Linked DNA regions of Homo sapiens. The protein of the gene in region 1 interacts with the protein of each later gene in a pairwise test. Each region holds a gene or a part of one and is shown on either strand. Other genes may lie near its edges.

Region 1 (4,438 bases):
TGGGTGGAGGAGAAGGAGAGAATATTCCAGGGTGGAGAAATAGTTTCTACATTATATACTCATTGGGTTTCCATTATGTGCCAAGCATTATGCAAGGTGCTAAGAGACAAACTTATATGTCCCTAACCTTAAGGTCATCCCAGGGGCCACAGACTCCAAGTTAAGGTACTACAGTGCAGGGAGGTGCATACAAACATTGCCAGATCAGATAGCTGGGGGTGTCTCAACTCAGTAAAAGCTTCTTGGAGGAGGTGACATCTTAGCAGGGTATTGAAAGATGAGAGATTTATCTAGGCAGAGAGGATGGATGGAGGACCCAAAAGCAGAGGGAGCAGCACAAGACTGTGTCTGGGCCCATGGACAAAGAGAGTGTGAACAGGGTCTGAAACACAGCCTAGCATCCGGAGCTCATGTTCTTGGCAGCCCTGAGAGGCCTGGGGTAGGAGCTGTGCTGCCTGTTGCCTGAGGACTTCAGCTGAATCTGGGCTGGAGCTGTGAGGTCCATAGAGGCAGCCTTGTCTGTCCTGGCCACCTCCTTGCCAGTGCCTCAGTGGACTCTCAACCACCAAGCTGGTCCAACAGGTGAAGTGCAGGTGGAATACCTGGGGCTCAGATATGGGCTCCTCCTCTGGCTTCTGCTCCCATTCCCCAGGGTTTGGGTGGGGACACTGGAGTTCATTCCTGGCACATAGGACAAGAGGATCTCAATCTTGCAGAACCAGATGACTCAACAAATGCTGTATTATTAGCTTTTAAATAGAATATTTGGGTAAATGAAGGATAGTTGTTCATTGTGAGAAAGAAAATAAAAAATATTGGAGAAAATTGCAATAATAAAACAAATGCATTTGTTTCTCTTTCTCTGCATATTATTTATCTATTGCTGCATAACAAGTTAGACCAAAACTGAGCAACTTAAAACAACAAACATCGATTATCTCACAGAGTCTCTGCTTCTAGGTTCACTAATGTGGCTGTGGGCAGGAGACTTCATTTTTTACCACGTAAGTCTCTTTATAGGCCTGCTCATAGCATGGCAGCTAGCTTCCCCCAGAGCGAGTGAGCCAAGATAGATTGGGGGCGGTGGGTGGCAGAGAGAGAGGGCTCAAGTAGAAGCTGCAGTGTCTTTTATAACCTAATCTTGGAAGTGGCATGCCATCACTTCTGCCATATTCTATTGGTCACAAAGACAACTTTGGTACATTGTGGGAGGGGACACACACAGAATGTAAACACGAGGAGACAGGGATCATTTTAGCAGCTGTATTAGTTTCCTAGAGCTGCTGTAACCAATTATCCTTGGTGGCTTAAAACAGCCGAAATTTATTCTTTCTTCGTTCAGGAGGCTGGAAGTCTGAGATTAAGGTTTCAGCAGAGCCGTTATCCCTCTAAAGCCTCTAGGGAAGAATTCTTCTTTGCCTCTTCCAAGCTTCTGATGGTTGCCACAATCCTTGGTGTTTCTTAGCTTGTGGCTGCAAAACTCCGATCTCTGCCTTCATCTTTACATAGTCTTCCCCGCATCTCCTCTGTCTCTGTGTCCTCTCCTTTTCATACAAGGAAACCAGTCATATTGAATTTAGGTCTACCTTCATCCAGCATGACCTTGTCTTAACTAACTACATCTGCAGAGACCTTATCTCCAAATAAACTCACAGACTGAGATTCCAAGAAGGATGTGAATTTGAGGGGGACACAATTCAACCAGTACAGCAGCCTTCTTAGAGACTGGATCCAATGCCTTGGAATCCCAGGGGCTGTGATCCTTCTAGGAAAGAATTACCAGATGATTTTTGTTCTTTAAGTTCCTTACCCAGAGATTCCAGCCACACAAACTCAGCACAGCCTCCTCCTCAGTGGCTTTGCTGAGATCTGTTTCCTGATCACTACTACAACCAACCAGAGCAGCAGAGCTCGATTCAATTTGAATTTACTCTGGGGAAGTGGAGGCTGAGGACAATCAGAGATGATGTCTACTCTGCTTACCTCAAGATTAATTTCTTTTCTTATTTTTATACAAGGAATTCATCTTCATTGTAGAAAAATTAGGAAATACAGGTAAATTAACAGAATTAAAAGAAAAATCACCTATACTGCCACCACCCTGACATTGCTACAATTGAAGTAAACTCTTCCAGACTTTTTTCTATAAAGAAATATATAAATAGGTATCTTTTAATTAAAATAAATTGCAATATATGCCACTTTGTAAGTAGGTCTTCTCAATATGTCATGAGCACTTTTTCATGGGAATAGAGACCAGCATCTGGGATTTTGATTGTATCTTGGGTTTTTAAAAGAGGATCAGCATACCCTACTTATCTTTTATCTTCTGAGCTCGAGCCATTTCTTCTGACATCAGCACCTCCTCATGCCCACAACAAGATGATGAGGGAAGAGATAGGAAAGGTAGCATATGACAGTGGCAGGATTAAAGGGAAGGAGGTGGGGCTGGGCCAAGGGCCATAGATCCCTGACTCTATGACCACCTCCCTCTCCTGCATAGTGGTGAGTGACAGGTCTTCATGTGGAGAGCTACTGACCCTATAAGGCTCAACTGGGGATGGGTTGGCCTGCGGGGCTCAGGGTAACACTGGTCAGTTACCATTAAGCAGGAATGATTCCCACCACTCCCCCACCCCACCTCCACAGAAATCTTTTCATGTTATTCCCAGTTTACCCCACATGGTTTTTACAAGATTCCACAGCAGTAGCACCATCCAGTGGGGGAGGACCGTGGACTGAGCTCCAAATCTCAGAATTTATCCAAACTGGGAACCAGAAGACAAAGTGGTCAGGTGCCCACTAAGTCAGACGTGGGGGTCCTGAGAGCAGAGAGAGTGATTGTCCGCCATGGGTCTCCTCCACTCACCCCTCACCCGAGCTGGCTCTGCCCAGGGAGTTCTGGGGGGCACGTTGCCCTAGTCACACTGCTGGAAGTAGAAGTCTGTGATGGGGGCATTCCAGCCACCATTCTCGGGAAGCTGGGTGAGTCTGACAGGCTGATCGGCTTCAGGCACCGTGCACAGGAACCAGCCCGGGTAGGCAGCCGACTCGAAGCTGGAGGTGAGCCCCATGTCCCGCCGGTAGAAGGTGAAGCTCTTGGATTCCTTGGCACCAAGATAGAGCTCCATGATGTTCACTGGCTGCCGGCAGAGGAGGGGAGGTCAGGTGAGGGCAGAAGCAGGGGCAGAGGGAGGGCTGGGCAGGATCCTTAGGGAGGAGGCAAAGCTGCCATCAACAGAATCCTGCTAGGGTGTCCCACAGCACCAGGGCTGTGGGCTGCCCGGCTTCAGTAGGCTCAGCATCTGTGGCTGAGTCCCCAGTGAGGATGCCCCAAGTCTCACCTCTAGTGTTAGAGTCGGCTCCTGCCCCACCCCACATGACAGGCACTGGCTTCCACCCTGGACACCCAGGATGACGGGGGACAGGCTGGCATCCAGCCACCGATTGGGGACCACGCTGATCTCTTCACCTGTGGGAAAGAGGCCAGATGCAGGGCCCTGGATGCCTTTCCCTCCTTCTTCCCCTGTCCTGGGCTCTAGGGCACAGGACTGCTGTAAGACGGCCTGCCCCCAGGCTGGGCAGAAGGGAGGCTTCTCAGCAGCTGTCATGACATGGCTTCTCCTGTCCACTGGCTCAGAGTGGACATCAAGGCATGGAAGCACATTGTACCACCTCCACTCCACCCTCTAGTTCAGGGTCAAATCTTCAAGCCTCTACACCCCAAAATAGATTCAACCCCCTCCTTTAATGTCCCTTGGGTCTCAGGCCTTTTTCTGAACCCTGTCTTGATAAGCCCCCCTTTGGAATTGTTTGGACAACTTTCTACACCCTGTGATGTTGCTGAGAGCAAAAGAGGGTCTCATTCCTCTCTGTACATCCCCTCACCACCCACATACATCAGATACATACATACACAGATACATGCATGCACACATATACATATACACACACATGCTCATACCTACATACCTGCACTCACACATACATGGTTACACACAGATACATGCATGCACACATGCTCACACATATATGCCTGCATGCACACATACATACACCAGTAAGCACACACATACACATATGGCCTAGCTGAAGGATCTACCTGGCATCTGTGCTCAGCAAGGGTGCCCCAGGTGGGCAGGTGCAAACTATTTTAGAGAGGGACGTGTTGCAGTGCATGGGGCAGAGTGAGCAAGCAGGAGGTCCAACAATGCCACCTGTTCTCTGGGTCCCTCCACTCTAAGTGACTGAGGATCTTCAGAGAGCAGAGGGGACCCAGGGTGGAGAGGCAGAAACCCACTCCCATATGGGAAAAAAGGTATAGAGAATCTACGTTAGTTCTCTCCTTGGTACTTACTGGCTCCCAGGGAATGCAATGCTTGACCTAAATCTACCTGTAAGGGAATGACAAGACAAGCCTCTTGGAAAACATTCCCAC
Region 2 (9,024 bases), on another chromosome or scaffold:
GGGCCTGTGCTCCCAGCTACTCAGGAGGCTGAGGTGGGAGGATTGCTTGAGCCTGGGAGACAGGTTGCAGTGAGACAAGGTCTCACCACTGCACTCCAGCCTGGATAACAGAGTGAGACCCCCATCTCAAAAAAAAAAAAAAAAAAGAAAAAAGAAAAAGAAAAACTAGGAGGAGTCAAATAAGGCTGGGTCCAGAAAGGAGGCAATGGAAGACTGGAAGACTGCTTAAATAGAACTTGCTCAGACTCAGAAGCAGAAGAAACCTTAGGTTTCCCTACAATAAGTCAATTTGCAAGGGGCAGAAAATAAGTTGGTTTAGGCCAGAAACTCTGCTGAGAAATAAAGATTGCATGTTGGATGGCATGTCCAAGTGTTGTATGTCTTAGGAATCGGCCCAGATGTTCACAGCAGATGAGGAACAGCATGGAACACACAGCTGCTTCCTATTAAGTGATTTTCACTCTTCTAGTCACAGGCTTTACAGGGTTTAGATTTACACTCTTCTATTTGCAGCAGTCCTACTATCTCTGGAATGTTCTGGCTGGCTTTACAAATTCTGCCTTATTTTCTTCATAGCACTTAACAATATCTAAAATTATATTATTAATTTATTTTCTATCCTCCCTGCTAGAATGTAAGCTCCATCAAAGCAAGAATTCTGTCTTATTGGTGGCTCTCTCCCCAGTGCCTACAACACTGGCTACCATAGATGAAGGCTCCCTAAATATATCTAATGAATGGAGATCACCATGTTGTTTAAAAAACCGATTCTTTCTAGACATCAATTTTAATAAAATCAGATTTACTATGTCCTAGTTTGGTTAGGAAAGTTTTTCACCATTGTTTGAAATTTCTCTTAGTCTCAGTCTTAAAATACAGCTCTCTGTGATGAGTATATAAAGTAACTGTAAATGGATCTTTTAGGTGATCCTTAAATGAAATTGGATGAAGTCTATAGAATTCATACAACCCAGAAGAGAATACTCACCTCTATCGTGTAAGGGCTGGGATCCCAGAGATTCATGCTTGAACAGAGCCTTCATTGGCTGGCACTGGCTACTTTGAGACCCTTGAGTTTGTGTCAATAGTGCCATCTTGCAACAGAGCAGTTCTTGCCCCTGGTCACCAACGGGAACCTAGAAGTCACGATTTTTAGTTATCTACCCAACATTTCTATGTTTTCCATGTGCAAGTGATTTCTATTTTCTAGGCACTGTTTCTACAAGCCTTATGATATTAACACAATTAATATAGATAACAACCCTGTGAGCTATTATTTTGGATTTTTATGATAAGTTGCTGAAAACGGAGATGTGGCCCGGATCCTCTCTCCTGAGTGGACAGCATTTTTTTTGTTGTTGTTGGTTTTTTTGTTTTTTTTTTTTTGAGACGGAATTTCACTCTTGTTGCTCAGGCTGGAATGCAATGGCATGATCTCACCTCACCGCAACTTCCGCCTCCGGGGTTCAAGCAATTCTCCTGCCTCAGCCTCCCTAGTAGCTGGGATTACAGCCATGTGCCACCACGCCCGGCTAATGTTTTGTACTTTTAGTAGAGACCGGGTTTCTCCATGTTGGTCAGGCTGGTCTCGAACTCCCGACCTCAGGTGATCCGCCCACCTCAGCCTCCCAAAGTGCTGGGATTACAGGCGTGAGCCACTGCACCCAGCCAAGGGTGGACAGTGTTTAAGCAGCTTGCCCATGTCACCCAGCTAATAAGTGGAAATGCTAGGATGGGAGCTCAGACAGAATGACTCCAGATCCCGTGTTCTTACCATTACTCTAGGCTCCCTCATTATATACATCTGTGTGTTTACGAAAACCCTTTGGACACTGGTGCTAAATTCTCAATACTAATATATTTTCTAATCTGAAAAATGAGGATAATAATTTCTACTTTATGAGGTTTTGGAGACCAGTAAATAAGATCACAGTATGTGACATCACCTAACACAGGGCCTGGCACATAGTTATGTCCTCATTAAAAGCAGGTTTCCTTCCAGACATTGATAGTTAAATTACAGTTTTCAAGTTACTGTCTCACGTGCAGCTCAGAATTTCCCACATATTTTATGAAGAATGAAGCTAAGAGATTTGCAATGACTTCCCACTGCTACAGGGCTTGCGTGCAATAGACCTAAGTCAAGAACCTTGGTATCCAGCTCACCAGTTAGAAGATTTGGCCACACAGGTCCTCTGAAGTTGTGTGCACAGGGACACAGGACGATGCAAAGAGGAAACAGTCCCTCATAAAACAGGGAAGAACATGGAGGTAAAAATAGGCCCACTTTCTACCAGAGGTTCATAACCAGTGGTCCATGGACTTTCTCCCAAGTGGTCCATGAACTTAGAAAGGACAAAAACTAATCTTATTTTTACTGGTCTTTAAGAGAGAGTTAACATTTCCTTCAATTATGAATGGAAGCAACAAATCAAGGTAGCATAAGCAGTACCCAGGACTTTGTCACCAACAAAACCTGCACGTTTTCACACCACATTACAACCAGGCAAATAGATGCTTATCGCCATTTTGAAATTGCCAATTATAAGCCCTGTCCCTAGGTCTTATTATTTAGTGCAGTAATAAAAATCCACATATATGACTTTAATACAAATTTAATTCTTTGCTAACTGTATGTCAATATAGTTGTGTTCTTTTGTAATCCTTTATAGTTTCTTTATATATTTAAAAATATAATTCTGAGAAGGAGTCCAGGGACTTCACCTTACTGCCAAGGAGGTTCACAGTACAAAAAGAGATGAAGAACTCCTGGACCTTAAAGGAATGCCCCTCGCTCCGATCTGGGATTTCAGGAGGAAACAGACCACAGCGCTCAGATACTAAACCTGTTCTTTCTACCTGCGGCGCCGGCTCATCCAGCTGCCTCTCCAAATACTCCAATAGCACCACCACCTCCTCCCCGCTCTCTGGATGCTGCTCCCGCACCCAGCTCTGCAGATTCCCCGGCAGGATGGTCAGGAACTGCTCCAGCACCAGCAGCTCCAGGATCTGCTCCTTGCTGTGCATCTCAGGCTGCAGCCATTGTCCGCAGAGTTCTCGGAGCCGGCTCAACGCCTCGCGGGGGCCCGCAGCCTCCGGGTAGCGGAAGCCTCGGAAGCGCTGGCGGGAGCGTTCGGGGCCCCGAGCAGGGCTGCAGGGTGCTCTCACCTCCGCCGTCAAGGCGGAGGCTTCCTCCTTCTCCACCTTCACGGTCAGGAGCCCCGTCTGGTCTTCTGCAGACTGGGCGTCCAGGGCTGCGTTTTTTCTCGGTTCTCTAGCCATTCTGACCCAAGGCAGTACTCGGGTCTCACTCTAGTTGCGACCTGTATATCTTCAGAGGATTCTGGAAGGGTGGTAAATTTTCCAGTAGAACTGCAAGTGGTCCCCCTCCTGTCATGCCCAGGGGCCCAGGACACCCCCTGAGGCGCAGCTGCACAGATCTCTCTTATAGTCCGTGCCTTTGCAGGGTCGTCCTCTGCACCCCACTCTGAATCCCACAGTAAGTATCACCAAAGGATGTCTTTGGGAGTGAAAGTGATCACTCTCCAGACATAGGAGGGAAGTTGAGGCTGGGGCACAGGAAGTCTCGATGGGAACTAAGGCCACTTCCTGGGCGCTCTAGGAAGCTTCTCTCGGTGGTTGTCTCCGAATTAACCCATTAGCTACCCTGTCCTTACCTCCACGCAAGGGAAGGCAGTTAAGGGATAGAGAAGGAAAGGATGACAGACCTTGGATCATAAGAAATAGGACTGAGCCTTTAAATCCTGGAAGGATGCCGCTGCGGCTCATATTTCTTTCCTATGTAAAGCTTGCTTAAGCAGCTGGCATAAAATTGACACTAAAATTGAGCTGGAAAGCAGGGGTTCCCCAGAGCCCCAAGAACCCTGGCAGGGGGACCTTTAGTCTCTCTCAGAAACATCAAAGCAGCAGAACACATCACCAGGCACTTGCCTGGAGCGAGCAGTGGCTGCCCTTGGTCCTTCCCCACTCACCCCCTTAATCTGTCACTTTTTTTCCTCCTCCTTAAGGCCAGACTACTCCTCCCGACCCTGACTGTAGCCCTCACCTCCCACTAATCCTCAACACACTGTCCCACTCCCCCACTCACCACTTTGCACATTCCATGGCTGCTTCTCTGGCAATCAGGCTTATGCTGCTCTCCACCTCCAGAAACTCTCTAGTCTCTGGCTTCAGGGACCCCATTCTCTTCTGCTTTCTTCCTTCCTGTTTCTTCCCAGCCCCCAATCACAGTCAAGCACAGTGGCTAGATACGCAGGTAGCCAGGTTACCTGTGTAATCCTGGCTTACCCTCCCTGTGCCCGACTTTTCCAATCTGTAAATAGGGAAAGTAATAGTAGATAGGGATGTTGTAGGCATTACTAGGGATTAGATAATGTTGTGAGCACTCTTGTGTAAAGTGCTTAGAACAGTGCCTGGCATGTGATAAACTAGGCCTATCCTATAATAGAAGAAAGCCCTGAGAATTCTTTGAACTAGATGGGACTCGATTTTAAGCCATAATTGACTGTAAGTTATTTGACTGGACACTTCAGTAAGCCCCTTTCTGCCCAGTGGAATGGAGAAGCTACAAAATGCAAGTTCAGTAGTTTATGAGGGGAAAAAATATCATGTCAGTACTTTCTTGAGTTTTTCTTTCTTTGCCTATGCCTCTACATTCCAAGGATTAAGAAATAACATAACTTAAGAAAATGAGAAGTCCCAAAGACTGTTGCAAATGAAAAATACTACAAAATATCTTTCTCTTGATGAGCTACCACAGAAGGTAGGGGGCACTGCCCATGAAGTATCCTTATAAGTGAACTTGAATCTAAGTACTTTTCTAGATCCAAATATTTACAGAAATAAGTTAAGTTAGCAGTTTTCACACTCTGTGTCACACAGAATCACTGGGGAGCTTTTAAAACATCCTGATACCTAGGCTGCAACCAAGATCAATTAAATCAGAATGTCACAGGATGGGACTCAGGCATTAATAACATTTTTTGGTTGTTTTTGTTTGTTTTGCGACAGAGTCTTGCTGTGTCACCCAGGGCTGGAGTGCAGTGGCGCAATCTTGGCTCACTGAAACCTCCACTTCCTGGGTTCAAGTGATTCTAGTGCCTCAGCCACCCGAGTAGCTGGGATTACAGACATGCGTCACCATGCTGGTCTCAAACTCCTGGCCTCAAGTGATCTGCCCACCTCAGCCTCCCAAAGTGCTGGGATTACAGGTGTGAGCCACCACGCCTGGCCAACTTTCCTAGGTGATTCCAACATGCAGGTGAGTTTGAGAGTTAAGGAATTAAATGACACTTTAAAAAATCAATCAGCCAAATCCAACATGTGGGACATTCTATAGAACAGAATGATGCAGGACAAGTGAGCCCCAAAATTAGGGCTTAGCTCAAAAGGATGCTTTGCTTCGCCCAGGGAAGAGTTCAAGGGCAAGCCAGTGGTATTAGGCAGCAACTTTTATTGAAGTGTCAGTGTACAGCAGCAGCAGAGGTACTGCTCCTTACAGAGCAGGGCTACCCCCTAGGCAGTGTGCTCAGACTAGCAGCTCAAAAGCAGTTCTGCAGTCACATTTATACCTACATTTAATTATATGCAAATTAAGCACCAGATTATGCAGAAATTTCTAGAAAAGGGGTATTACCTTCTGAGTCACTTGGTCATGGCCATGGAAAGGGGTGGCAACTTCCCTGTGTTGCCATGGCAATGGTAACTGACATTGCACACTGGTGGGTATGTCTGGTGGAGAGGTGATACTGCCTCTTCCCTCTTTTAGCTAGTCCTCAATTTGGTCAGGTGTTGGAGCCCCACTTCTGGAGTTGAATTCTGCCTCCTACCTCATTCCTCCCTCAGGGATTAGATATGCCTTCTTAATTTTAAGCAGGCTGCAGAAGGGCAGTGGTCCATCTTCTGTAACTGCTTCCTGCTTAGTTTATGGGCATAGGCCCTGCCTAGCACTGGAAGAGTAAAAATCTCTGGATACCATATCTAAAGGCGGGATGCTTTTATTTTCTGGGTCAGTAGATGGGATGGGTTGGAAGCCCTGCGACGGCATTTTCTTTATCTGGAACTGTTGTAATTTAGAAGACACAGATTTTATAAAGACGTTAAACAAGCAAGGGCCAAAGATTAGTAATAACAAGATGGCTATTAAAGGTCCTAGGAGAGATAAAAACTAGGTGAGACTTTGTATGGCACTTCTGATAATTGACCAGATATAGTTGGGTTCAGTGCCCTGATTATAGATATGTAACCCGGTATCTTGCTTATAGATCTTGTGAATGTTAAATTCAACCTGTTCAGAGTTGTTACTACATGTGCAGCAGGTTTTATTAATAATTGCACAGACTCCATCTTGTTTGGCTAGTAAATAACCTATACATTTGGGCTGGCAAGTCAGGGGCTCTTCTCTGGGCATTCCAGACACCCATCTTGTGACACTATTTCAGGATGGGTAACCCTCAGGGGTCAGGGGACTTAAAGCATTTGCTAATAATTGCACTTTTTGGCTATTGTTAAATCTCTTTTGCCCTGTCCCTATTGTTGTAAACTTTAAAGGCCATATTTAAATGGCTCATAGGGGTTTGAGGTCCTATTGCTGCTTTTTATAGCTTTCTCCTAGGATAAGGGGCAGATTGAGTAATAAAATGCATACCTAGGAGAGCTTGTCCTTTTTGGGAGTCTGAGTCTGCATTAGTATATGTCCTGAGTGTTTCACCAAAATGACCCTGAAATAGAGTGGGATTTTCTCATTTTCCCTGAGTTATTTCTTTAACCTTGTCATAAATGACTGGCTTAACCACACAATTTTTCCTTACCTTTTTTCTTTTCATGGCACAGCAAGCAAATGACAATACTTGCAAGTCATGACAAGTTAAAGAATATGGTAAAATGTATAAGCCTTTTTTTTTGATTCTCTGAAAACTGGCCAAATTTTTCCTTGTATAAAGCCAAATTAGAGATAGACAATGCCCCATGTACTCTAAGTGTTCCTCCATTTCCATCAGCTACCTCCTGCAATGGACATAGGTTTGACTTTAGGGGCTTATATGGGGCCCTACTCCTGGTGGTCCTGGTTGGGCTTACTTTTTTGGGCCCTGGGGGGTAAAGGCTGGGGGTAGTTGGATAAGGGAAAGGGGTGCCTGATGACCTTGAGTTAGAATCCTTCATTAGAAAACTAATGGGACTACTCTCAGAATAGGATTAAGGAGACTTCAGACAGGGCATAGGATGATATTGTGATTATGAAGGAAAATGTCCTTTTTATGCATTCATGACTGAAATAGTTAGAGGTGAAGCATCATAATGTCTGCAATTTTCTTTCAATTGAGTAAGAAACCAAATCGTAACAACTAGTGAATCTAGGTAAATGATATATGGGTGTTTGAACTTTTCTGTAGGTTTGAAAGTTTTTAAAATAAAAATTGGGAGCTGGGCATGGTGGCTTATGCCTGTAATGCTAGCACTTTCTGAGGCTGAGGTCAGAGGGTCACTTGAGCCCAGGAGTTCAAGACCAGCCTGGGCAACATCTGTCTAGAGACAGGGTCTAGTTCTACAAAAAATCAAAAATCAGTTGAGCATGGTGGCACACAGCTGTGGTCCCAGCTACTCAGGAGGCTCAAATGGAAGGACCACTTAAGCCCAGGAGGTCAAGGGTACACAGTGAGCCATGATAGTACCACTCCACTCTAGCATGGGCAACAGAGTAAGACCCTGTCTCAAAAAATAATAAAATAAAATAAAAACTAGAGGAAAGATTTATGAAAAACAATTTTGAGAAATTTTAAGAAAGGTAGTAAAAGGTTACCTGTGAGAACAATTCCATTTTAGCTGAGCATTCAACATCTGGTACTTTCCTTGATAATTAAAATGTATTGTTATTTCAAAAACTGTCCCTATTTTCTTAAAGTTCTTCAAATATATTTCTATGCTGTATGCAAATGAACATTTGCTCATCTATAAATAAAATTTAGAAAATAAAAGCCCATCCTCCCATTAAAAAGGTATGGTAGGCATTTATTTTTATCCCTATAAGCATACTTTTTGCACCACTGCTTTTTCTGCTAAGTCAGGGGTTAGCAAACTGCTGCCTACAGACCAAAATTGCCCCATGGCCTGTTTTTTAATGGTCTGAGTGAGGAATTATCTTTATATTTTTTAATGGCTTGGGGAAAAATCAAAAGAATAATAAAATTTAGTAACGTGAAAATCATATGAAATTCACTTCAGTGTCTATAAATAAAGTTTTGTTGGAACACAGCCATATTCATTCACTTACATATTGTCTATGGCTACTTTTGACCTACAAGGGCAGAACCCTAATTAAGCAAAATGTTATTCATCCAAAAAACAATTTCATTCTTCCCATTAGAAAATATGCATTGCAAAATTATACTCAATTATTATAGTTTGAATAATAATATAATTATATTGCATCAATGAAAATGTGCTTTTTCTTTTGTTATAAGTATGTAATATACACCATGGAATACTATACAGCCATAAGAAAGGAATGAGATCATGTTCTTTGCAGGCACATGGATGAAGCTAGAAGCCATTATCCTCAGCAAACTAACACAGGAAGAGAAAACCAAACACTGCATGTTCTCATAAGTGGGAGTTTAACAATGAGAACACATGGACACAGCGAGTGGAACAACACACACAAGGGCCTGTGGGGGGTGGAGGATGGGAGGGAGAGCAGCAGGACAAATAGCTAATGCATGTGGGGCTTAAAACCTAGATGATGGGTTGATAGGTGCAGCAAAGCACCATGGCGTGTGTATACCTATGTAACAAACCTGCATGTTCTACACATGTATCCCAGAACTTATAATAAAAATTAAAAAAAAACAGTTATCTCTTCCTTGGAATAATTGAACAAATTGTTGATTATGCTTTATCATTTAAAATAAATGTATATTTTGTCTTAAAAAAAGTATGTAATAATATCCTCAATTTTGCCTCTTGGCCCACAAAGCCTAAAATATTTACTATTGGCCTTTTGCAGAA

Evidence for each region.
Region 2: the proteins of IL36RN (region 1) and ZKSCAN4 interact in binary tests that used the Homo sapiens proteins (3 or more experiments, as listed by UniProt).

What each region holds. Positions count from the first base shown.
Region 1 is NC_000002.12:113,061,158-113,065,595, reverse strand, and holds the end of IL36RN (interleukin-36 receptor antagonist protein), read right to left. Parts: intron 3,473-4,438; coding exon 3,345-3,472; intron 3,144-3,344; coding exon 2,919-3,143; 3' UTR 852-2,918; downstream 1-851. UniProt on the Homo sapiens protein: Inhibits the activity of interleukin-36 (IL36A,IL36B and IL36G) by binding to receptor IL1RL2 and preventing its association with the coreceptor IL1RAP for signaling.
Region 2 is NC_000006.12:28,248,699-28,257,722, forward strand, and holds the start of ZKSCAN4 (zinc finger protein with KRAB and SCAN domains 4), read right to left. Parts: upstream 3,572-9,024; 5' UTR 3,283-3,571; coding exon 2,860-3,282; exon of another isoform or gene 2,847-2,859; intron 2,691-2,846; exon of another isoform or gene 2,167-2,690; intron 1,137-2,166; coding exon 989-1,136; intron 1-988. UniProt on the Homo sapiens protein: May be involved in the transcriptional activation of MDM2 and EP300 genes.